7 linked regions of the Homo sapiens genome follow. The protein of the gene in region 3 purifies or fractionates together with the protein of the main gene of each other region. This does not show direct contact. Each region holds a gene or a part of one and is shown on either strand. Other genes may lie near its edges.

The links.
Region 1: the proteins of SEC24A (region 3) and SHTN1 fractionate together in Homo sapiens (co-fractionation; one large-scale study listed by BioGRID). This does not show direct contact.
Region 2: the proteins of SEC24A (region 3) and FAM118B fractionate together in Homo sapiens (co-fractionation; one large-scale study listed by BioGRID). This does not show direct contact.
Region 4: the proteins of SEC24A (region 3) and STMN2 fractionate together in Homo sapiens (co-fractionation; one large-scale study listed by BioGRID). This does not show direct contact.
Region 5: the proteins of SEC24A (region 3) and USP34 fractionate together in Homo sapiens (co-fractionation; one large-scale study listed by BioGRID). This does not show direct contact.
Region 6: the proteins of SEC24A (region 3) and USP16 fractionate together in Homo sapiens (co-fractionation; one large-scale study listed by BioGRID). This does not show direct contact.
Region 7: the proteins of SEC24A (region 3) and STAT6 fractionate together in Homo sapiens (co-fractionation; one large-scale study listed by BioGRID). This does not show direct contact.

What each region holds. Positions count from the first base shown.
Region 1 is NC_000010.11:116,928,688-116,932,187, reverse strand, and holds part of SHTN1 (shootin-1), read left to right. Parts: intron 1-2,185; coding exon 2,186-2,339; intron 2,340-3,500. UniProt on the Homo sapiens protein: Involved in the generation of internal asymmetric signals required for neuronal polarization and neurite outgrowth.
Region 2 is NC_000011.10:126,218,282-126,221,781, reverse strand, and holds part of FAM118B (protein FAM118B), read right to left. Parts: intron 1-3,500. UniProt on the Homo sapiens protein: May play a role in Cajal bodies formation.
Region 3 is NC_000005.10:134,658,785-134,662,284, forward strand, and holds part of SEC24A (protein transport protein Sec24A), read left to right. Parts: intron 1-2,334; coding exon 2,335-2,802; intron 2,803-2,945; exon of another isoform or gene 2,946-3,005; intron 3,006-3,500. UniProt on the Homo sapiens protein: Component of the coat protein complex II (COPII) which promotes the formation of transport vesicles from the endoplasmic reticulum (ER).
Region 4 is NC_000008.11:79,614,117-79,617,616, forward strand, and holds part of STMN2 (stathmin-2), read left to right. Parts: intron 1-3,500. UniProt on the Homo sapiens protein: Regulator of microtubule stability. When phosphorylated by MAPK8, stabilizes microtubules and consequently controls neurite length in cortical neurons.
Region 5 is NC_000002.12:61,464,588-61,468,087, reverse strand, and holds part of USP34 (ubiquitin carboxyl-terminal hydrolase 34), read left to right. Parts: intron 1-3,500. UniProt on the Homo sapiens protein: Ubiquitin hydrolase that can remove conjugated ubiquitin from AXIN1 and AXIN2, thereby acting as a regulator of Wnt signaling pathway.
Region 6 is NC_000021.9:29,048,668-29,051,827, forward strand, and holds part of USP16 (ubiquitin carboxyl-terminal hydrolase 16), read left to right. Parts: intron 1-93; coding exon 94-188; intron 189-1,424; coding exon 1,425-1,511; intron 1,512-3,160. UniProt on the Homo sapiens protein: Specifically deubiquitinates 'Lys-120' of histone H2A (H2AK119Ub), a specific tag for epigenetic transcriptional repression, thereby acting as a coactivator.
Region 7 is NC_000012.12:57,098,136-57,101,362, reverse strand, and holds part of STAT6 (signal transducer and activator of transcription 6), read left to right. Parts: intron 1-463; coding exon of another isoform or gene 464-814; exon of another isoform or gene 815-1,272; coding exon 1,273-1,367; intron 1,368-1,459; coding exon 1,460-1,596; intron 1,597-1,922; coding exon 1,923-2,069; intron 2,070-2,284; coding exon 2,285-2,348; intron 2,349-2,460; coding exon 2,461-2,571; intron 2,572-2,765; coding exon 2,766-2,858; intron 2,859-3,227. UniProt on the Homo sapiens protein: Carries out a dual function: signal transduction and activation of transcription. Involved in IL4/interleukin-4- and IL3/interleukin-3-mediated signaling.

The sequences.
Region 1 (3,500 bases), on a different chromosome or scaffold from region 3:
TATTTACTCGCATGATCATGTGACTGATTGGGAGCTGTGGCTGGCTGCCGCTGCAGAGGATTGTTGAGAGAGTATCTTATTACATATTGCGAGCCTGGGAAAAGATCAAAATCCAGAATTTGAAGTATGGTTTGTATTGAATGCATGTCGCTTTCACACCATTGTAAAGTCGAAAAACTATCTCAAACCATCCTAAATTGGGGACCATCTGTATGTCGCTTAAAATGTTTCTTAGCTGTCTGTAAGTTCCCTTGCAGATGCAGCAGTCTTTTAAGCACAGCATATGGTTTTTGCAATTATAAAAATAGCATATGCTCCTTATAATACATTTTTAAAATACAGCAAAAGTTAAAGAAGATTAACCAAGTATCCCATATTTTGGTGCATAGCTGAACTTTCTGTAAATATATACCTTTATAAATATAGTTTGTTTAAATTGAATCATACTATGCATACTATTTTATGCCTTGATTTTTTTTCCATTGGTAATATATCTTCTCATGTCAGTATATAGTAAGCTATGTGATTTAAAAGTTGCATAGTATTTCATTGAATAAACATGCTATAATTTATTAAACTAAAAATATTGGTGGACATTTAGGTTATTTGCAACTTTTTGCTGTTGTAAAGAATACTTCAGGCCAGGTGTGGTGGCTCACGCCTGTAATCTCAGCACCTTGGGAGGCCAAAGCAGGTGGATCACTTAAGGCCAGGAGTTCGAAACCAGCCTGGCCAATGTGGTGAAACCCTGTCTCTACTAAAAATACAAAAATTAGCCGGGTGTGGTGACATGTGCCTGTAGCCCCAGCTACTCAGGAGGCTGAAGCACAAGAATTGTTTGAACCCAGGAGGCGAAGTTTGCAGTGAGCCCAGATCGCGCCACTGCACTCCAGCCTGGCCGAAAGAGTGAGACTCTATCTCAGAACAAAAACAAAAACAAAAACGAAACAAAACAAAAAACCACTTCAGTGAATATATTTCAGAGTATTTTAAAAAATAATTTCTAAAAATGGTTTTACTGAATCGAAAGCCTTTCCTTTTTTTTTTTTTTTGAAGACTTTTGATACTTATTACTAAATTTGTGTCCCCCAGGAGTCTTTTAAAATATTACCTGAATTTTTCTTTTGAAAATGGGTACAAAAGTGACCCATGTTTAAAAATTAAAGTGTCTGTGTGACTAACAAGCATATAAAAAATGCTTAACATCACTAATCATTAGAGAAATGAAAATCAAAACCACAATGAGATACCATCTCATGTCAGTCAGAATAGCTGTTACTAAAAAGTCAAAAAATAGCAGATGTTGGCAAGGTTTCAGAGAAATGGGACGCTTAAACACTGCTGGTGGGAATGTAAGTTAGTTCAGCCATTATGGAAGGCAGTGTGGCGATTTCTCAAAGAACTTAACACAGAAATACCATTCAACCCAACAGTCCCATTATTGGATATATGCCCAAAGGAATATAAATCATTCTACCATAAAGACACGTGCACACATATTCATCGCAGCACTATATGCAACAGCAAAGTCATGGAGTCAACCTCAATGCCCATCCGTGGTAGACTGGATAAAGAAAATCTGGTACATATTACACCATGGAATACGGTGTAGCCATAAAAAGGAATGAGATAATGTCCTTTGTAGCAACATGAATGGAACTGGAGGCCATAATCCTAAGTGAACTAACATGGGAATAGAAAACCAAATGTTCTCACTTCTAAGTGGGAGCTAAGCATTGATTACACACGGACACAAAGAAGGGAACAACAGACACTGGGGCTTACTTGATGATGGAGGGTGGGAGGAGAGAGAGGATCGAAAAAGTATCTATCAGGTACTATTCTTTTTACCTTGGTGATGAAACAACCTGTACACCAAGCCCCTGTGACACACAATTTACCTATATAACAACCATGCACATGTACCCCGAACCTAAAATAAAACTTAAAAAAAATTAAAGTGTCTGGTACGTAACTCCCCAGTAAATTTATTTTAAATCAGCTCTTTAGCTGATTTATGATTGTGTGTTAATTGTATCTAGCATTTGCATGGTTGTTAAGATGGATTGGAATCTGTTTGCTATGAAGTACAGTCAAAGGGAAATATTTATTTTTTCCCTTTCTTTTCTTTGACAAAGGAAAAACTGTCAGCCATAAAAGTCTTTTTTTTTTAAATAACTTATAGGTCAAAGAATTAGAAGAGCAACTAGAAAATGAAACACTCCACAAAGAAATACACAACCTCAAACAGCAACTGGAGCTTCTAGAGGAAGATAAAAAGGAATTGGAATTGAAATATCAGAATTCTGAAGAGAAAGCCAGAAATTTAAAGCACTCTGGTAAAAGCATTGAGTAGGCTACTATGTCTTACTATTAATCTTTGAATTACTCATGCCTAGTACAAAACCTGGCATATAGTTAGTCTAGAACATTTACTGAATGCTGTGGAAAAATACCAAGATTTGTTTTGAAATTCCTTAATTTCTAACCATTGCAATTCAGTAGAATAGCTGCTGTATTAAATAATTCAAAAATATTTAGACTAATTTTTTGGACTTAGAGCCCTTGTGAACATCATATACAGAATTTAGACACAGAGATACCGTTAGCCTAGGAAGACCAACTTTTCAGCATTTTTCAGAGCTTCAGAGATGAATGTTCATTATGTACTTTATTTTGTTCACTTAGAGTGCATTTTTAGAAAGAATTAAACTTTTTAAAAATACTGTCTTCATCTTTGGTGTTCATACTACCTTCATCTTTGGTGTCTAATAATACACATGAAATAATACTTTCTATATTGTACCTAACAATGAACTGGGCAACAATATATCTATTAAATGGAAAATCTTTAGAAACACCAGGGGATACTTAAATCAAAAGATTTATTCATTCAGTTCTAGAAGGCTTAACGGGAATGTGCGAGTTAGATTACTATACGGGCATATGTGTAAGTCTCTGTTGGAAGGTCGGTAATTTAAGAAGTCAGGTACATTCCCTTTATAATAGCTTCAATATTCACTTCAGATATTTTTGGTTAATTTTATACTAGAATTTTGAAACCTATGCAGAAGAACCATGTAGGCCTTTTTTCCTTCTAAAAGCATTCAGTGCTTTCTAATCCACAATGAAAATTGATTATAATTTATTTTTTAATTGATCCAAAATTAAGAAGTATTTCATTCTTTTTAGTGAATATCAGAGTAGCCTGTAGCCAAAGCCATCTTTATTATGAATAGAGGAGGCAGACACTGGAAATATATAAGGTTCAAATCTGAATGCCTTCTATTAATACTTATTATCTGCTGTGTGTGTACCCAGCCCTATCCTAGGAAACAATAAGAAATACAGAAGAAAAGAAACCATGCTTTTTGTCTTCAGAGAACTCAGATTCCCCTTGGAGGGATAGGTGCATGCACATAAAAAGACTAGAGGATTCTCAGTTTTGGAGAGCATAGCCCACACTGCCTATTTAAGTGTTGAGGGTAAATACAAATGGA
Region 2 (3,500 bases), on a different chromosome or scaffold from region 3:
TCCTCCCTCCCCTCTAGTGGGAGGTCTTCCCTGTTTCCTAAATGCTGAGGATCCGCAGGGCTCTCCAGTCTATTCCCTTTACATACTCCCTTCCCTTCCCACCCCATTCACCCCTAGATATTAAAATACCAACTAAACGCTAAGGACTCCCAAAACGCTACCTTCAGTTCAGATCTCGGTGGTGCTTCAGGCCCAGGAGATAGCCATGTAAGTTTCAGTCAGGCAGCCCTTCAATATTGAAAGGTACTTTCAGACTGTACTTCAAACTTAAAAACCAAAAAACCGTTCAACAACCTGCTCCTTATCCTAAGTTATACAGATCTCTGAATAGTAGAAATAAGCTATGTGATAATATTTATAGGCCATTATTTCTTTCTTTCTGTTTTAAGCACCAACATATGTATTTACTGATTTTGGAAAAACTGTCATATACTTCAGAATAATGTATTTGGATCATTTCTAAACAAGAGAATATGAACCAAAGGGAACCCAGGGAAGAAAGTAAATCTGTAACCTTAAACTAGCATGATATTCTTTTCAGGATATTCTCTTTTTCCTAATAAAAATTAGCCAAAAATTAATATTGTTTTTCTTTGAGATGGAGTCTTACTCTGTCACCCAGGCTGGAGTGCAGTGGCTTGATCTCAGCTCACTGCAGCCTCTGCCTCCCGGGTTCAAGCTATTCTCCTGCCTCAGGCTCCCAAGTAGCTGGGATTACAGGCCCACGCCACCATGTTTGGCTAATTTTTGTATTTTTAGTAAAGACAGGGTTTCACTATGTTGGCCAGGCTGGTTTCAAACTCCTGGCCTCAAGCGATCCACATGCCTTGGCCTCTCAAAGTGGTGGGATTACAGGCATGAGCCACTGCGCCCGGCCTACTATTCTCTTTGATCTGAAGATGAACTGAGAGCTGAAAAGCACTGTTTAGATCTGAAATAAGAATCTGAAAGCTCTTAAAAAAAAAAAGGCATTATTTGTCACAGAAGCCATCAGAACAACTACAAAGACCAGGTTTCTTAGGAGAAATAGCTCTAAAAACATGGTTTTGCCAAGCAGGTAGCATCAGTCTTTTTTGTTTGAGACAGTCTTGCTCTGTTCCCCAGGACGGCAAGATCATGGTTCACTGCAGCATCAAACTCTGGGGCTCAAGGGATCCTCCTATCTCAGCCTCCTAAGCAGCTGGGACTACAGGTGCGCACCACCACACCTGGCTAATTTTTAAATTTTGTTGTAGAGATGGGCTCTTGCTATGTTGACCAGGCTGATCTTGAACTCCTGGCCTTGTCAAGCAATCCTCTTGCCCTGGCCTCCCAAAGTGTTGGGATTACAGGCATGGGCCACCAAGCCCAGCCAAGCATCAGTCTTAAAAAAAAAGTGGCCAGTGAAAACAATTGAGGGTATTAAAAAAAAAAGAGAGAGAGAGAAAACAGAAAGCAGGTTAGGGAGACTAAAAACATACTTTCATAAGGAAGTGAAGGAGGTCAGTGGAAGACCAAGGAGGACTCTCAGGGAGCAGCCAGAAAGCTGGGCAGCCTGGGCCCAAGGGAGGCAGGTGGAGACTTCATTCAGAAAAAGAGAGCACCTTTCCCCCAGATTTGAAAGTAACAGATCACTGCAGGAAATATGCAGAAAGAGCAAAATGAAGCCCCCCTTCCTCCAACGTGGAGCTAACCACTGCTGACATTCGGATTTATGTGGAGAAAAGCAGTTTTTAAGAGGAACTCTCGGAATAAGTCTGAGTATCTTGGGTTCATGTTCATATCAATTCTAAAAACTTCATTCATTAGAGTTTGCCCCTGCTTTCACACCATAAATCTCCATACATATAAGCCCCCCCTTTAAAAAAAATTCTTCCTTCAATGTCTTATTAAAATTAACTTAAAAAAAAAACTCAAGCAGCTCGAGCTGCTTTTTTTTTTTTTTTAAGTTAATTTTAATAAGTACAGTAGTGCATGTTTTCTGCAGTAGAAGAAAGAAAGAAGCAGTCTATTTCTAGTGGCTGGGGGTAGGGAGGTGCTGGGGAAGAGCAGGAACCTAGGAAGAGTCAGCAGAGGGTAGCCACGCCCCAGCCCCATGGACGAGACTCCTGAGGAATCCATAAAACTGCGAAGTACTAAGTTCTGGCAACAGATCTCAAACCTGCTCCTTAGCAAGAGAGCTAAAAAGAGAGTGTTTCTTATGTACTCTGTTAATTTGACTCTTAAGGCATATAAACAATAGGGAGACCCTGTCTCTACAAAAATAAAAAACTTAGCCAGATGTGGTGGCATATGCCTATGGTCCCAGCTACTTGGGAGGCTGAGGTGGGAGGATTGCTTGAACCCAGGAGGTCGAGGCTGCAGTGAGTCATGATCATGCCCACTCCAGTCTGGGCAACAGAGAGAGACTCTCAAAAAAAAAAAAAAAAAAAAAAAAAAAAAAAAAAAAAAAAGATAAACAAGAGCTGAAGGATAAGCTTCCAAAATAAACGAGGAAAACAAGAAATCTGTGCTTTTCCTTATGTGATATTCCTGTGCTGCATTCCATGACACTAAGAATATAAAACATGATAACTTCTGTCCTTACGTGTTTACTTCTTAATCTTTTTCAAAGTACGCTATTAAAATGGCAACAGAGGAGTTTTTCTTTTTTCAAGGTATAAAACCAAGAATGTGAGGTGCAGGAGATAAGCATTCAATTTTTCAATGAATTTTTGGAGATGGAAAGCAAGCTTTAAATGCAGATCTGAAAATACGGATTGGCATAAAGTCTATTTAACTAATGCGCAAATTCTCTTCCTCACCTCCTATTTTCATCTATTTTCTCCACCCCCAAATCCAGAGGTTTAAAGAAAAATGAACCGAAATCTGAAATGGGTCTGGAGTAAAATACATCAGCAGGAGCAATGAAGAACTGAAAATACAGATTATGTCAAAAGATGCATACTAAAAGGTTCTCCAAGCCTCCATCCTTGTCCCAGCAACCAATGCACTGTCAGCTAAAGAAATATTAGCAAACATATACATTTGTACAAACATACACACAAAATCCATATATACCAGCCACCCTATAGTAATGGCCACCACCCAACAAGACCCACGCTGGGAACTTAAAATAACAAAAAACAAAACAGAAATGAACAGTCAGAATCATGAGACATTCAAAGAAATCCCACAATAAAATAATTCATTTATTCCTTAAGTTATTAAGCATCTATTCATCGCCAGGCACTGTTTCAGAGGCTGGAATTATAGAGGTAAACAAAAAAAAACCCAAAATCCCTGCCCTCATAGAATGTTTATTTTAGTGGTGAGGGAAACAAGTAAATAAATATGTGGGATGCTAGATGGTGGGAAATGCTTCTGGAGAGAAACAAAGCAGGGAAGTGAGATGGGGGTCTGCACTTCTCAATCCAGTGCTCTCTTCACTGAGGTGACATTTAAGGAAAGACTTGTGGATTCATCCAAAGTGAGGTGTGGGAGCAAGTCGCTGGATATCTGAGGGAAGACACATCCAGACA
Region 3 (3,500 bases):
AATGGGCTTTTAGAATAGATATGATAGTTTTGTGATGATATCTGTTTAGGTGTGGTGTGGAAATTTCTCATCTCAGGTCATGAGTCAGATTGACATCTTTCCTGGTTGCCCCTGGGAAGTAGATTATGACAATTGAGTTCTTTTGGAAGGCTCTGTTTTAGGCAGATAAGAGATTTTAGGAACTCAAATGCCTTCTGCTTAAAATAATTTTTATGCCATAGTAGCGTATTCTGGACCCCTTCACAATCACTGACCCATTTATTTTTATTTATTTATTTATTTATTTATTTATTTATTTATTTATTGAGATGGAATCTTGCTCTGTCACCCAGGCTGGAGTGCAGTGGCGCGATGTTGGCTCACTGCAAGCTCTGCCTCCTGGGTTCACGCCATTCTCCTGCCTCAGCCTCCCGAGTAGCTGGGACTACAGGCACCCGCCACCACGCTCCACTAATTTTTTTGTATTTTTAGTAGAGATGGGGTTTCACCATGTTAGCCAGGATGGTCTTGATCTCCTGACCTCGTGATCCGCCCGCCTTGGCCTCCCAAAGTGCTGGGATTATAGGCGTGAGCCACCGCGCCTGGCCTCACAGACCCATTATTTTGATGGGCTACTTAGTAATGACTTCAGAATTTAAAAAAATTATCCATTTAGTGAAGGTGTCATTATATATTTATTACTACACTTTTTGTGAACTACTTGTAATTGATCCATATATGATTTTCACATAGTGGGGAGGGATGTCAGAAAAAAAAATTTTCATGTAATAGTTACTCACAATAGGTCTATGATGGTGACTACCACAAAACAAGTTCTTTTGTATCTGTCTTCCTGCCAGTTGGCCTTATGACCTCATATTCTTTTTTTTTTTTTTTTTTTTGAGACAGGATACAGGGTCTCACTTTGTCACAGAGGCTGGAGTGCAGTGGCGTGAACGCAGCTCCCTGCAGCCTTAACCTCCTGTGCTCAGTGATCCTCCTGCCTCAGCCCCAAGTAGCTGGGACTTACAGGCAGGCGCCACCACACCCAACTAATTCTTATATTTTTTATAGAGACGAGGTCTTACTATTATGTCCAGGCTGGTCTCGAACTCCTGAGCTCAAGCTATCTGCCCGCCTTGGCCTCCCAAAGTGTTGGGATTATATGTGTGAGGCACCATGCCCAGCATGTTTTCATCTTTATTGGCCTGTCAAATTTTTGCTTATTTTGTACATTTTGATGGTATTTGGCTTTCACTTGGCTGTACCTGGCTTGAAGGCACCTCTTTAGCGTATTAGCTTGTGATAAGATTGTAAATACAACCTGTTTGCTCACGCCTGTAATCCTAGCGCTTATAGAGGCTGAGGCAGGAGGATTACTTGAGCTCAGGAATTTGAGACCAGCCTGGGCAACATAGTGAGTCTCTGTCTCTACAAAAAAAAAAAAAAAAAATTAGGCCGGCGTGGTGGTGCATGCCTGTAGTCCCAGCTTCTCAGGAGGCTTAGATGGGAGGATCGCTTGAGCCCAGGAGGTCAGAGCTACAGTGAGCCATGATTGTGCCACTGTACTCCAGCTTGGATGACAGAGTAAAGTGCTGTCTCAATCAATCAATCAATCCATAAGTAAGTAAATAAAATTGTAATACAAATATGAAACTAGGCCAGGACATCTTGTGGCAACATTGGGCTGTGAGATGGCCTATTTTTATCCAAGTGACCCAACATATGCTTATATATTATTTTTTTACAAATGTTTTCATTTATTGAGACATCTCTGTATTCCCTCTGTTACTTGCTACTGTTTAGTCCATCTTTTTTTTTTTTTTTTGTCACCCAGGCTGGAGTGCAATGGTGTGACCTTGGCTCACTGCAGCCTTGACCTCCTGGGTTCAAGTAATCCTCCTGCCTCAGCCCCCCAAGTAGCTAAGACTACAGGCGCATACCATCAAGGCTGGCTACTTTTTGTTTTTTTTTATAGGCATGGGGTTTCACCATGTTGCCCAGGCTGGTCTTGAACTCCTGGGCTCAAGCTATCCACCTGCCTTGGCCTCCCAAAGTGCTGGGATTACAGATGTGAGCCACTGCGCTGGCCTTCATTGTGGTTTTGATTTACATTTCTGTTATGACTAATTATGTTTGTATTTCTCTAATGACTGATGATGTTGAATGTTTTGGCATGTGCTTATTAGCTATCTTCTTTGGAAGTATGTTTGAATGTCTATTTAAGTCCTTTGCTTATTTTTTAATTGAGTTATGTGTTTTTATTGCTGACTGTAAGAATATATGTTTTACTTTATTTCTTAAAGTATTGCTATATTCGTTGGTAAGACTAATTTTTCCTCCTTTTATTGGAAGGTCCTGTCCAAAATGCATTGCTGTCTTCACAAGAGTCAGTGAGCCAAGGATACAATTTCCAGCTTCCAGGATCCTACCCTCATCCAATACCAGCAAAGACTTTGAATCCAGTCTCTGGACAGTCTAACTATGGTGGTTCTCAGGGATCTGGGCAGACTCTTAATAGACCACCTGTGGCCTCTAATCCAGTGACACCTTCGCTTCATAGTGGTCCTGCTCCCCGAATGCCATTACCTGCTTCTCAGAACCCAGCTACTACACCAATGCCTTCTAGTAGCTTTCTTCCTGAAGCCAACCTGCCACCACCTTTGAATTGGCAATATAACTATCCATCCACAGCCTCACAAACAAACCATTGTCCTCGTGCATCATCCCAACCAACTGTATCTGGAAATACAAGTTTAACCACAAATCATCAATATGTTTCTTCTGGATATCCTTCACTTCAAAATAGCTTCATAAAGTCAGGTAGTATTCTTATAGAAGTGCTTAAAATGTAGAAATGTGAAACTTTTGCTTATTTAGATGTTTGAAATAATACTTGAAACCTGAAAACCATATGGAAAATGTGACTTTTAAAATTATTAGTAGTTTTTTGTTGTTTTTTGTTTTTCGGCTTTCCAGCAAAAACCAGAAAGCCTGCTAGACAAATTAAGTAAGCTATAACACTCATTAGTAGTTTTTTTTTTCATTCTTTTTTCTCTTTTTTTTTTTTTTTTTTGAGATGGGGTCTTGCTCTGTCACCCAGGCTGGAAAGCAGTGGCACAATCTCAGCTCACTGCAACCTCTGCCTCCCTGGTTCAAGCAATTTTCCTGCCTCAGCCTCCAGAGTAGCTGGGATTATGGGATTACAGGCACGTGCCACTGCACCCAGCTAACTTTTTGTATTTTTAGTAGAGATGGGGTTTCACCATATTGGCCAGGCTGGTCTTGAACTCCCGACCTCAGGTAATCCGCCCACCTCAGCCTCCCAAAGTGCGAGGATTACAGGCGTGAGCCACCACACCTGGCCACATTTATTTATTTTATTTATTTATTATTTATTTATTTTTTTGAGACGGAGTCTCTCTCTGTCGCCCAGGCTGGAGTGCAGTGGCGTGATCTTGGCTCACTGCAAGCTCTGCCTCCCGGGTTCACGCCATTCTCCTGCCTCAGCCTCCCGAGTA
Region 4 (3,500 bases), on a different chromosome or scaffold from region 3:
ATCCAAATAAAAATCCCACCCCAAATATGACAAACGCAAGCATCCTTTCTGGCCATAATTTAACTGCATTTGCAAATCATGAAAAAAACACTACTTCTGCAGTATTAAAATAATAGATTTTGAAATTAATTCCAATTTCAAAGATAATTAATTATCAGGGCGAGTGCTTTTTTCCTGATTCATTAAACAATTATGTATTCAGCATGATTGTAAGAGGTGCATATAATATTCCCCATTATCTTTTCTAATGAAGTGGGCACCTTCTGAATGGATATATAAGTAACTAGAAATGAAAAGCTGAGGATTTGGTCAGAATTTCAGGATAAAACTGAAAGAAATGGCAGTAGTTTATCAATTAATCTCATGTATTTAGTTTATACCAGGTGAGTAAGCTGAGCCTGCAATAAACACTCTCTGTCCCAGTGTAACACGTCGCAGGTAGCTAGAATGATAGGATAAATTAATAGACCTTGTGGTGTTTGTCTATGCACGTTAAAATTCTCTGAGAGAAAGTATATTTTAAAATGATAATTAAGATTGGACATTTGTGCTATTAAAATCTACAACTTTAGTCAAAATTCACAATGGTTTTTTTTTACAATAATGTGACTTACAGATTTGTAGTAAATTATTCTATTCTAAAAGAGAAATGAGTGTTTTTATTGTTACAGCTATTACCTCATTAATATTTTTAGCAAACTTTTATTTGTTGCATTGAAAGCAGTTTTAATTACTTTGGGTTTTTATTTTTCAAATTACTAATGGATAGATGGTGGAATAAGCATTTAATCATTTGGCACAATATGACTTCCATCAAATAGCTCATTCTCAGTGATTAAAAAATGCTACAAGAGGCTACAATTTACTCAGATTCAGGAAATGTCCTTTCAGAGTGCCATAAGGCTGATTCATATAATAAAATAGTTTTCTTCCCTATAATTTAAGATCAAATAGTTACTTAGTTCTGTGAATACCTAGCAGTAGCTATCAAACAGAATTTTAAAGTTAAATCTGTACAACTAACAATGAAGTGGAGGATGAATCGATACATATTGAATGGAAGACTTTGTCATTGATAAATTCAGGCCATCTTTAGGAAAATTCCGGATTTATCAATCACCATTATTTTTTACTTCAACTGAGTGTGACTGATCACATGCTCAGGCTACCTTGGTAGCTCATTGCTCACAGGAGGCTGAAAAAAGCTGGCCTCCGAGCAGGAGGAAGCTCAGAGCACAAACCTAGGCCTGGGCGTGGCCACTGGGAGCTGCTGATAGCGAACCCCAGCTCACACCAGTTTCTTTTTTGGTCGTGGGAAGAAAAACACATATTATCCTGTTGTCACAAGATCTGTGACCTTATATGAAAAAATGCTAGAATTTTTTCATTAAAAAAGAAAATACTGAACTAGCCAGTGACCCAGATGTTTTCAGAACCTAGACTGGTTCTGTCCATTGGAAAACCTCGGTGTCTGCATTAACTTTTCACCACACTAGAGGGCAATCATGTTCTCTAAAAAAGCAGATGATTGATGTAAACCTAGTTCCAAATATTAACTGTTTAATAAAATCTTTTCTTTTACCAGGAACATTCAAGTGTTTATTCAATAAGCTGATGCCATGCTTTACCCTAGTGGATGAACAGAGCTTGTACAATTTTCAAGGAGACAGGATGAAATGAGTGGTCATAATCTGAAAGTAGATACACGCCCTGGTTAATTATTCCCTGATGGTTTTACTTCTCAGTTTTATTACATTGTTATTATAATACCATTTATGTTACTTCTGAGATTTTGTAGTGGATAAATAGTAGAAAAATGTCAGTAGTAATAGCAAAGTTATTTAGCAGCCGAATATTTTAATGCTTAAAAATAAAGGAATAAATTAAAGAAAATCATTGTTTACTTCTTCATCGATTGAAATGTGCCCCCTGTTCAGAGCACATCTGAATATCAGAGTCTCCACCTGCAGAGAACATGCAGCTTAGCGAGTAAAACAGGCAGGTATGTGATACTGAGGAGGTGTACCAAAAACTGACTGCTGTTATTTTTCCCATCTTCTAAGTCTGTCTTTCTTTTCCATTTAAAGATACCTTTTTAAATCTAATCCAATGTGATTTCAATCTAGTTTTATCAGATTTCAACAATTATTGAGCATCTCCTTGTAGTGGTTTTCTGTTTATTAGAAAATCGATGTTAATTTTAACGAAGTAAGAAGAAATATATAAGTATAAACTAATTTTGGGTATCATCAAAAGTGGATTTTTTAAATATGCATTGATAGAATTATTTTTTGATTACATTTTATGTAATTCTAATCCAGCTATAAAATATTTAATAGTGTCATATTACTGTGTTCCTCAAACTTTGATGTGCATATGAATTACCTTTGATTTTCATTAAAATGCAAATTCTGATTCAATACATCTGGCTTGAGGCAGACATTCTGTCTTCCGAACAAGCTCCCAGATGATGCTGATTCTGACCACTAAACACATCAGTTTTAGGGATATTAACTTGTAATATACAGGTATCCCTCCTGGTAAGCTCTGGTATTATGTCTTAACATTTTTAAATCTATGGTAATCTTTACAAAATATTTTACTTCCGAACTCATATACCTGGGGATTTTATTACTCTGGGAATTATGTGTTCTGCCCCATCACTCTCTCTTAATTGGATTTTTAAAATTATATTCATATTGCAGGACTCGGCAGAAGACCTTCGAGAGAAAGGTAGAAAATAAGAATTTGGCTCTCTGTGTGAGCATGTGTGCGTGTGTGCGAGAGAGAGAGACAGACAGCCTGCCTAAGAAGAAATGAATGTGAATGCGGCTTGTGGCACAGTTGACAAGGATGATAAATCAATAATGCAAGCTTACTATCATTTATGAATAGCAATACTGAAGAAATTAAAACAAAAGATTGCTGTCTCAATATATCTTATATTTATTATTTACCAAATTATTCTAAGAGTATTTCTTCCTGAATACCATGTGAGAAAATTCTTAAGAATTTATTGAGTATGACTGTATATTTGAAAAGAGTGTTTTCTTCTGCTTATCTAAGCCAATAAAGGATCTTCATTATTCAATTCTAACTTTCTAAGGAAGTCAACCTACAGATCAGAAAGAGGATCTTCAAGGAATAGCATCAAAGACATAGTCAGGTCTCCCATGCAGTGACTGGCTGACCATGCAGCCATTACCACCTTTCTGGAAATATTATGCTGCAAAAATGATACAATACACGAAATATCTCAAATTAAAAAATATAACATTTCCCAAATAGGGCACTAAAAACATGATCCCAAATAAAACTAGCTTCAGGGTTTGCAGAATATACTGTTACTCAACACAAAGTTGGACTAAGTCTCAAAGTTAGCCATTCAGTTGTTGTTAACAGTTCATTTCAGGGTCTCTCAGAAGCTGGGAAACTTTCCATTTTTGCAATTTCTTGTACATTGAAGGAAAGGAAGACACACTTAAGACAGCATTACAAAA
Region 5 (3,500 bases), on a different chromosome or scaffold from region 3:
GAACATGAGTGGTTGGAGCTTGATAAAACTTGTTGAAGTAGATTATATGTGTTTCTTGTGATCTCATTTGCAGTAATTACCTATAAAGTCTGCCCTTTTCCCGCCTGTACCTTGTACAAAGATGAGCATCAGTTCAACGTTGATTTAGAAATTCAGAGTTGGCCGGGCAACTCTGAATACAGCTCACGCCTGTATTCCCAACACTTTGGGAGGCCGAGGTGGGCGGATCACAAGGTCAGGAGCTCGAGACCAGCCTGGCCAATATGGTGAAACCCCATCTCTACTAAAAATTCACCAATTAGCCGGGTGTGGTGGTGTAGGCATCTGTAGTCCCAGCTACTTGGGAGGCTGAGGCAGGAGAATTGCTTGAACCCTGGTAGGCGGAGGTTGCAGTGAGCCGAGATCATGCCACTGCACTCCAGCCTCGGCCACAGAACAAGACTCCATCTCAAAAAAAAAAAAAAAAAAAACAAAGTTACAGTCCTCCCAAAATGTGCTCAGAATTCATCTTTAAATACGACACCCTGTAACAGTTTAGCCAGCTGAGAGAAGCAATAAAATTGTGCATATTTTTGGGTGGTGTGTTTCCAGGTCATGCTGAAAAATACGTAATTAGTATTAAAGCAACCTCACAAAACAGTCAGACGTGGTGGTGCGCCCCTGTAATCCCGCCTCGGCAGGAGGCTGAGGCAGGAGGATTGTTTGAGGCCAGGAGTTCGAGACCAGCGTGGGCAACATAGTAAGACTGCTTTTTTTATTATTATTATTTTTTTATTTTTTATTTGGAGACAGAATCTCGCTGTGTCACCCAGGCTGGAGTGCAGTGGCACGGTTTCGGCTCACTACAACCTCTGCCTCCCTGGGTTCAGCAATTCTCCTGCCTCAGCCTCCCAAGTGGCTGGGATTACAGGCACACGTCACCATGCCCAGCTAATTTTTGTATTTTTAGTAGAAACGGGGTTTCACCATATTGGCCAGGCTGGTCTGAACTCCTTACCGTGTGATCTACCCGCTTCCGTCTCCCAAAATGCTAGGATTACAGGCGTGAGCCACCGCGCCTGGCCAAGACTGCTGTCTTGAAAAAACAAACCAAAAACACTGTTTCTTGTGAAATTAACAAACAGTGATCACACTTAGAGAAGGCTACCTGGGCAAACGAGTGTAATAAATTTTTTTTTTTTTTTTTGACACGGAGTCTAACTCTCACCCAGGCTGGAATGCAGTGTCGGCTAGCTGCAACCTCCACCTCCCGGATTCAAGTGATTCTTCTGCCTCAGCCTCCTGAGTAACTGAGACTACAGGCACCCGCCTCCTTGCCTGGCTAATTTTTGTATTTTTAGTAGAGGTGGGATTTTGCCATGTTGGCCAGGCTTGTCTCAAACTCCTGACCTCAGGGGATCTGCCTGCCTGTACCTCCCAAAGTGCTGCAATTACAGGAGTGAGCCAGCATGCCTGGCCTAAAAATTTTGTTTAAAAAATTTTTAGTTGATAAATAATAATTTTACATATTCATGGTGTACATAGTGATGTTTCAATACATAAAACGTATAGTGATCAGTTGAAGTTAATTAGTATATCCATCTCAAACATTTAGCATTTGCTTTGGGAACATTCAGTATCCTCCTAGCTATTTGAAACTGTATCATATATTATTGTTTTTTTGAGATAGGGTTTCTTTCCCATTGCCCAGGCTGGAGTGCAGTGGTATGCTCTTGGGTCACTACAGCCTCCGCTTCCTGGGCTTAAGCAATCCTCCTGCCACATCCTCCCAAGTAGCTGGGACTACAGGCATGTGCCACCAAGCCCGGCTAATTTTTGTATTTTTAGTAGAGATGGGGTTTCACCACGTTGGCCAGGCTGGTCTTGAACTCTTGAACTCAAGTGATCTGCCCGCCTTGGCCTCCCAAAGTGCTGGGATTATAGGCATGAGCCACCATGCCCGGCTTGTATCATATATTATTGTTAACCGTAGTCATTCTGTAGTAGTACTTATTCCTTCTATCTCACTGTAATTTTATATTCTTTAACAAATCTCTCCCTATCCCTCCCCTCCCTCTACCATTCCCAGCAAATTTTGTTGTGTTTTTGTTTATTTTATTTTATTTTTTTTTGAGACAGAGTCTTGTTCTGTCACCCAGGCTGGAGTGCAGTGGCGCCATCTCTGCTCACTGCAAGCTCCGCCTCCCGGGTTCACGCCATTCTCCTGACTCAGCTTCCCGAGGAGCTGGAACTACAGGCGCCCGCTACCACGCCCGGCTAATTTTTTGTATATTTAGTAGAGATGGGGTTTCACCATGTTGGCCAGGATGGTCTCGATCTCTTGACCTCGTGATCCACCTGCCTCGGCCTCCCAAAGTGCTGGCATTACAGGCGTGAGCCACCGTGCCTAGCCGTGTTTTTGTTTATTAATAGAGACAGGGCCTTGCATTGTTGCCCAGGCTGGTCTCAAACTCCTGGTCTGAAGCCATTCTCCTGCCTCAGCCTCCCCAAGTACTGGAATTACAGGCATGAGCTACCATGCCTGGCCAGTTAATTGTGTTTTAAATGAAAGGGTAGACACAAGTGTGGGTAGTATAGCTTTGTATTAGATATGCACAGACTTTTTGATAAGAGTAAGGACTTAATGTGGAATGTTTAAAGTTTGGCAGAATGCAGTATCGTTAAAAGTAACAGATTATGAACAGTTCGTTTTGTCATCAGTTTTTGGTGAGAGTATTAATATTATTAGTTATACCTCTAGTCCTGAGAATCTGAAGCTGTAAACTTTCACTGTGGAAACATGCAGAGGCATACAGACACAGAATTGTGCTTACAGGTTGAGGACCCGTTGAAGTTTGTTCCTGGAACCAGACTAAGGATCCTATCATAAGTACCCTTGCCCCACCACACCCACCCTTTTTAAATATAATCTTGACACATATCATAAAAGTTGAAACTACATTTCAAAATCATATTTGGCTTTAGTGTTAGAATAACCAATCCCAACAATACTAAAATACTGGACTTGCCATTTTCTTTTCATGCTTCATTTTAAAAACATTTAAAAAGCTTGGATGTATTGAGTAAATTTTGCTGTTATCATTTTGTGGGATTACATTCTGTTTAGGATAAATTTTAAATTTCTGTTCCTCTGCTTGTTCTGTTGAGTTTGTCTGATAACTGCTTTTGTAGTTACTTTTGTGAACCAGTTTACAAAGGCCAAAGCATTTCTAGATCTTGGTGAGGAGTTGGAGGCTTAAAATTACATGCTTTAGGCCATCACCATAGCAAACTCACTAGTAAACTGAGGTTATTTACCTCGTAAGGTAAATTTCTCTGAAAGCAGAGTGAAAATTACATAGTACCTCTTTTTTTTTTTTTTTTTTTTTTTGAGACGGAGTCTCGCTCTTTCGCCCAGGCTGGAGTGCAGTGGTGCGATCTTGGGCTCACTGCAACCTCCGCCTCCTGGGACTACAGGCGTGAGCCACCACGCCTGGTGTACGTCATTGTTTTAAACCACT
Region 6 (3,160 bases), on a different chromosome or scaffold from region 3:
CTTTAGATGTTTGGAATGATTTTATAGCAAATCTGAATGCTTTAGGGGTCTAAAATGATTTTCTCCCTGTTAAAAATTTCTTCTTTTCTTTAGGTGAAAGGAAGCATGTTTACACCAATGCCAAAAAGCAGATGCTAATTTCTCTTGCTCCTCCTGTTCTTACTCTTCATTTAAAGAGATTTCAGCAGGTACTCCTTGTTACCCAAAATTTGTTTTAAATATGTAACACCTACTTTATTACCTATTTTTTTCATTACTGTCTCAACATACTACTTTGTTTCTTTGGTTTTCTGTTGTTTCTTAACTGTAATGTCAATGAAGTCAGAAAGGGAAAAACATAGGGGCTAGGCAGAGGCGCATGTGAAGATGGAGGCACAATCTCCTCAGATTTCCTAGAACTCATTTATGTCCCTCTTTTTAGTACGATTGGCATCTTACTTTTATTTCAGGTTAAAAAAAGAAAAAGACTGGTGTGTTACATATATCTCATGCTTAGGAATATTAGTGATTTTTTCTGTTTTGTGTGTGGCATCTTGTTTTTACGGACCCTTGATAAAAAGACATTGGTGCCTTGGATTGTCATCATTTTGGTGACCTCATCTTTTCTGGAAAACTTTTGCTATAGCTGTATAACTTCTAAACTGTGTTGCAAATTCCGAAAGTACTTTCAGTATCTTCAGAACGTTTTGCCTCTTGTGGTTGGTATGGGCTTGACTAATTGGGTGGGCCTTTATTAACAATTCACTAAGCTTGGTTTGAGCATGAGGCTGAGAGCGTGTGTTTCACAGAAAAGTATTATGCTATCGCTGAGTTTTAAGCACTCAGAACCTGTGGTCTAATCTGGCATTTCTGGATGGCTGAAGCAGAAACATTGAGAATTTTCTCACGAGAAAAGTTGTTTTTCTTCTTTTTGAAACAGTCTTGTTCTGTCACCCAGGCTGGTGTGCAATGACACGATCATGGCTCACTGAAGGTTTGACCTCCCAGTCTCAAGCGATCCTCCCACCTTAGCCTCTATAGTAGCTGGGACTATAGGTGGCTACCACCATGTCCAGCTAATTTTTTAATTTTTTTGTAGAGACAGAGTCTCACAGTGTTGCCCAGGCTGATCTCGAACTCCTGGGCTCAAGTGATCCTCCTGCCTCAGCTTCCCAAAGTGCTGAGATTACAGGCATGTGCCATCGTGTCCAGCTGGGAATAGCTTTCTTAATGTGTTGGTGTGTGTTTTTTGTGTGATACATGTGTACTTAGCAAAAGCAAACCAACTTGGAATCAGTTAGTGTTCAGGAAGAATTGAGTCTCCAAAGAAAATTGAACTAGGACTTAATGTTGATATTCTTTTGGACGTCGGAGGGGACTTCGGTTTACTTAACCTGTATTGCTTTTCCAAGAAAAGAAGTCAATCTGTTATGCTTCTCTTTTAGGCTGGTTTTAACCTACGCAAAGTTAACAAACACATAAAGTTTCCGGAAATCTTAGATTTGGCTCCTTTTTGCACCCTTAAATGTAAGGTAAGTCAAAGTGGTCTTTTTCAGGAAAGTCCTTTAAAGTCAAATTGTGGCTTACCTAATGCTCCAGTAGCAACTCACTTAAGTATGAAGTTGATAACACTTATTGAGTAGAGTGGGTCTTTGATCATTGTACCTTTATAATTTGAAGATTAGTGATGAATCATTTTGAAGAATGGGTTATTTCAGTTCAACGTTTGGAATCCCCTTTATTATGGCATACATTGTCTTGTGAGCGGAGGGCATAAAACTAAAGGTGAGCAGATCTATTAATGAATAATCTGTTTAATGTGGTTGAATGTTAAGGCTGGTGAACATAGGTCAGGAGTGGTATACACTTAACCCAGCATGTTGGTGGTTCAGGAATGGCTTTGTAAAGTAAACCATGCCTCAACTATATTTAAAGAAGGAGTAAAAGTATGATGAATCAAGATGAAATGAGTTTTGCAGGCAGAAGGAACAGCAGGAGTAAAAACAGCAGTGTAAAATAGGATGGTGATTGCCAGAGACTGGTAACGTATGTAGTTCTAGAGTTTATAGTACAAGGTTATAGGGAGAGTTGAGAAATGAAGCCAGAGAAGTGAGATAGGAATGAAGTTTTGGAGGGTTCTCATGGTGAGGAACTTGGACTTCATTAGGTATACAGTGGGGAGCCCTGAGGAGTTTAAAGCACTGGGGTGGCATGGTCAGATCTTCATATGACGTAGGTTACTTGTTGATGTATGAAGGCTGAATTTTAGGACGGAAAGACTAGAGGTGGGGAAGTGAGTTTGGAGGCTGTTGTATTAATTCAGCCAGTAGTTGATGAGGGCTTAAAGTTGGGCAGGAGATGGGGAGATAGAAGGAATATTTCAGGAGGTAGAATTAACCAGACTTAATGATTGATTGGCACTGTAAGGTGAGGCAGAGGCCTTTTATAAGTGGATGCTGAGGGTGGCAGAGAAAGGGTTGAGGATGATTCCTGAGGCCTGGCACGACAGATGGGAGTGCTGTAAATTGAGATAGGATATATAGGGAGAAAAGCAGGTTGAGAAAAGCAGGTAGAGAAAGGATAATGACTTCAGTTTTAGATACATTTGAGTGTCAGATACCTTTGAGAAATTAATGTGCTTAGTCTAGAAAACATTTGGATATACATATCTGAGACCTATAGCAGAGAGGTTAGGATGGGCCCAGGGCACAGATTTAGAAATCAGTACATATGTGGCAGTTTAAACTATGAGAAGATGGGATCCCTTGTGTATAGAGTCTGAAGAGAGAAAAAGGAGATGGCCAATGACAGGACCCTCCTAAGTATCTGAGTGGAAGAGGCAGGGGTAGAAAGTGAGGACACCACAAAGGATCTCAAAGAATCTCCATGTTGAAGAATTTGGGGCTGGGCGTGGTGGCTTACGCCTGTAATGCCAACACTTTGGGAGGCCGAGGCGGGTGGATCACTTGAGGTGAGGAGTTCGAGACCAGCCTGGCCAGCATGGTGAAACCCTGTCTCTACTGAAAATACAAAAATTAGCCAGGCATGGTGGTGTGCGCCTGTAATCCCAGCTACTCGGGAGGCTGAGGCAGGAGAATTGCTGGAACCTGGGAGGCAGAGCTGCAGTGAGCCGAGATTGCGTCACTGCACTCCTGCCTAGGTGACAGAGCAAGAAACTCCC
Region 7 (3,227 bases), on a different chromosome or scaffold from region 3:
GTAATCCCAGCACTTTGGGAGGCTGAGGCGGGCGGATCACAAGGTCAAGAGATCGAGACCATCCTGACCAACATGGTGAAACCCCGTCTCTACTAAAAATACAAAAATTACCTGGGCATGGTGGCGCATGCCTGTAGTCCCAACTACTCGGGAGGCTGAGGCAGGAGAATCACTTGAACCTGGGAGGCAGAGGTTGCAGCGAGCCAAGATTGTGCCACTGCACTCCAGCCTGCCAACAGAATGAGATTCTGTCTAAAAAAAAAAAGAAAGAAAGAAAGAAAGAAAAAGAATTCCTGTTGCAAAAACTGAACAAAATCCCACAGGGACATGTGCAGTAATACCAGCTACCACGTGTTGACAGCTTATATGCCAGGCGCTGTGCTTAACACCTTATGTATGTTATCTCACTTAATCCTCCCAACATCTCTTTGAGGTAGATACTATTATTATCCCCATTTTACAGATGAGGAATCTGATGCTCAGAGGGTTATGTAGTTTGTTCAAGTTCCCAAAGCAGGTGAGTGCCATGGCTAGGAGAGAACCACATATTTCTGACTCTTGCTCTTTTATTTTATGTTATATTATGTTATTTTATGTTTTGGTTTTTTTTTCTTTTCTTTCTTTCTTTCTTTCTTTCTTTCTTTCTTTCTTTCTTTCTTTCTCTTTCTTTCTTTCTTTCTTTCTTTCTTTCTTTCTTTCTTTCTTTCTTTCTTTCTTTCTTTCTCTTTCTCTTTCTCTCTTTTTCTTTCTTTTGTGTGAGACAGAATCTTTAAAGAGAAGAAAGAAATGCTCATGTGACCAGAGGGTGTGTTAGCTAAAGGGAGCAAGACAGTCACACCCAGCAGGTTACCTTCCTTTGGGCGTCACCTCTGCCACACCTCCTTAGGGAGAGGGTGTAGCATAGTAGTTAAGAGGGGCTCCAGGGCCAGAATGCCTGGGTTTAAATCCTAGCTCTGCCTCTTACCAGCTATGTAGACCTGGGCAAGTCATTCGACGTTTTTGGACTTCCATTTCTTCATCTGTAAGATGGAATTATTATAATCCCTACTTCCATAGCCTGGTAAAGAGCAAATAAATATATGGAAAGGCTTGAAATAGTGGCTGGCACGTGTAAGCATTAGGATTGGTCGTTGTCATTGATGGAGTCTCAGGTTCGGTCTGATCCTCAGCCCTGTGATTCTGTCGTGAGGGCACTCACAGCTCACTGCCTGCCCTAAACAGGCTCCAGCTCTGGCCCTCCCTCGGCTCACACCTTTCCCCCTCTCCCCCTAGGAGATCCTGCTGGGCCGTGGCTTCACCTTTTGGCAGTGGTTTGATGGTGTCCTGGACCTCACCAAACGCTGTCTCCGGAGCTACTGGTCTGACCGGTGAGTCCCCACCCTGGGTAGTCTGAGCAGCCATACACCAGTCACCTCCATACTCACTGCCCATGCCCCATCCTCTCCTTCATCCCGGCCAGGCTGATCATTGGCTTCATCAGCAAACAGTACGTTACTAGCCTTCTTCTCAATGAGCCCGACGGAACCTTTCTCCTCCGCTTCAGCGACTCAGAGATTGGGGGCATCACCATTGCCCATGTCATCCGGGGCCAGGATGGTGAGGCCACCCCAGCCAGTCCTCTGTCTCTGTGCCTGTGCCCTCTGGGGTTTCTTCTGGGAATGAAATGTCCTGACCTTCCTGATGCCGATCCTGATCTTCAGGAAGTTCTTCCAGCTTCTCTTCTTCCTTCTGTGGTCTAAATGTTCACCTTCTCACTGTGAGCTCTGTGGGAACGGAGACTAGTGGGTCTCTCTCCCTCAGGAGCCCCACCCTAGGTCCTCTCTCCCTTGCCTTGGTGGAGTGAGAACAGGTCTTATGGTAGGGGTTGGGGAAGGGGAAGAAAGTCCGGACAGAGGGATCTCAGGGTCTCCTTCCTACCATAGGCTCTCCACAGATAGAGAACATCCAGCCATTCTCTGCCAAAGACCTGTCCATTCGCTCACTGGGGGACCGAATCCGGGATCTTGCTCAGCTCAAAAATCTCTATCCCAAGAAGCCCAAGGATGAGGCTTTCCGGAGCCACTACAAGCGTGAGCTGGAACTGGCAGCTCTGATTCCTTCCTGTCACCCACTTCCTCCCTGCTCCCCGCTGCCCTCCTCTCCCTGCCCGCGTGTCATCCTGATGTCACTCCCTATTTCATAGCTGTGCTTCTCTTACTTCCCCATGATCCATGCCCACCTTTTCCACCTCCCTTCCTCCCTAACCCCAGAGCACTCCATGGCTGTCTTTTCCTTCTCACAACAGCTGAACAGATGGGTAAGGATGGCAGGGGTTATGTCCCAGCTACCATCAAGATGACCGTGGAAAGGTGAGTGTGGTGGTATGGACAGTGGGTAGGTCAGGGGCTTAGTGCTTATCTGCAGGAAGGAGGGGTGGCATCAACCCTTGGTCAGTCACATGTACCTCCTTCCCTCCTCCAGGGACCAACCACTTCCTACCCCAGAGCTCCAGATGCCTACCATGGTGCCTTCTTATGACCTTGGAATGGCCCCTGATTCCTCCATGAGCATGCAGCTTGGCCCAGATATGGTGTAAGGAGCTGGAAAGACAGGAATGGGAGTGGTCTGTGCAGATGGGCTAATCTTAGCATGGGCAGCTGGGAGAGCTGGCACTGGGGGCTGAACAGGGAATCTTCCTTTCCATGAGAGGGACACCTGTTCAAAAGCAGGGTGTGGTGGTGTCCAGGAGAAGGGCTGGCATCAGGGGGTCTGTTTTCTTTCCCCAGGCCCCAGGTGTACCCACCACACTCTCACTCCATCCCCCCGTATCAAGGCCTCTCCCCAGAAGAATCAGTCAACGTGTTGTCAGCCTTCCAGGAGTAAGTGAAAAACCTCATGGGGATACCATCCCACTCTAAGGGGGTGGGCATTTGAATTGTTAGAAGAGGCTCTTCTGTGAGAAAGGAGCAGCAAATGCTAACAGCCTGTCTTCTTCTCTTCTGTCCACTCTAATGAGGGGGTAGTAGTTAAGATCTGGACTGCCTAGGTTTGAATTCTAGCTCCACCACTTACTGGTTTGGGGCAAATTACTTAGCCTTTGGTGCCTTATCTGCACAATGGGGGATAATAATGCTAATAATAATAACCTACCTCACTGCATTATTGTGGAGATTAAATGAGTTCATAACACTTAAAAAGCTGAGCATAGTGCATGGCTCATAGCAAAAGCTGTGTAAGTCCAGTCGTGG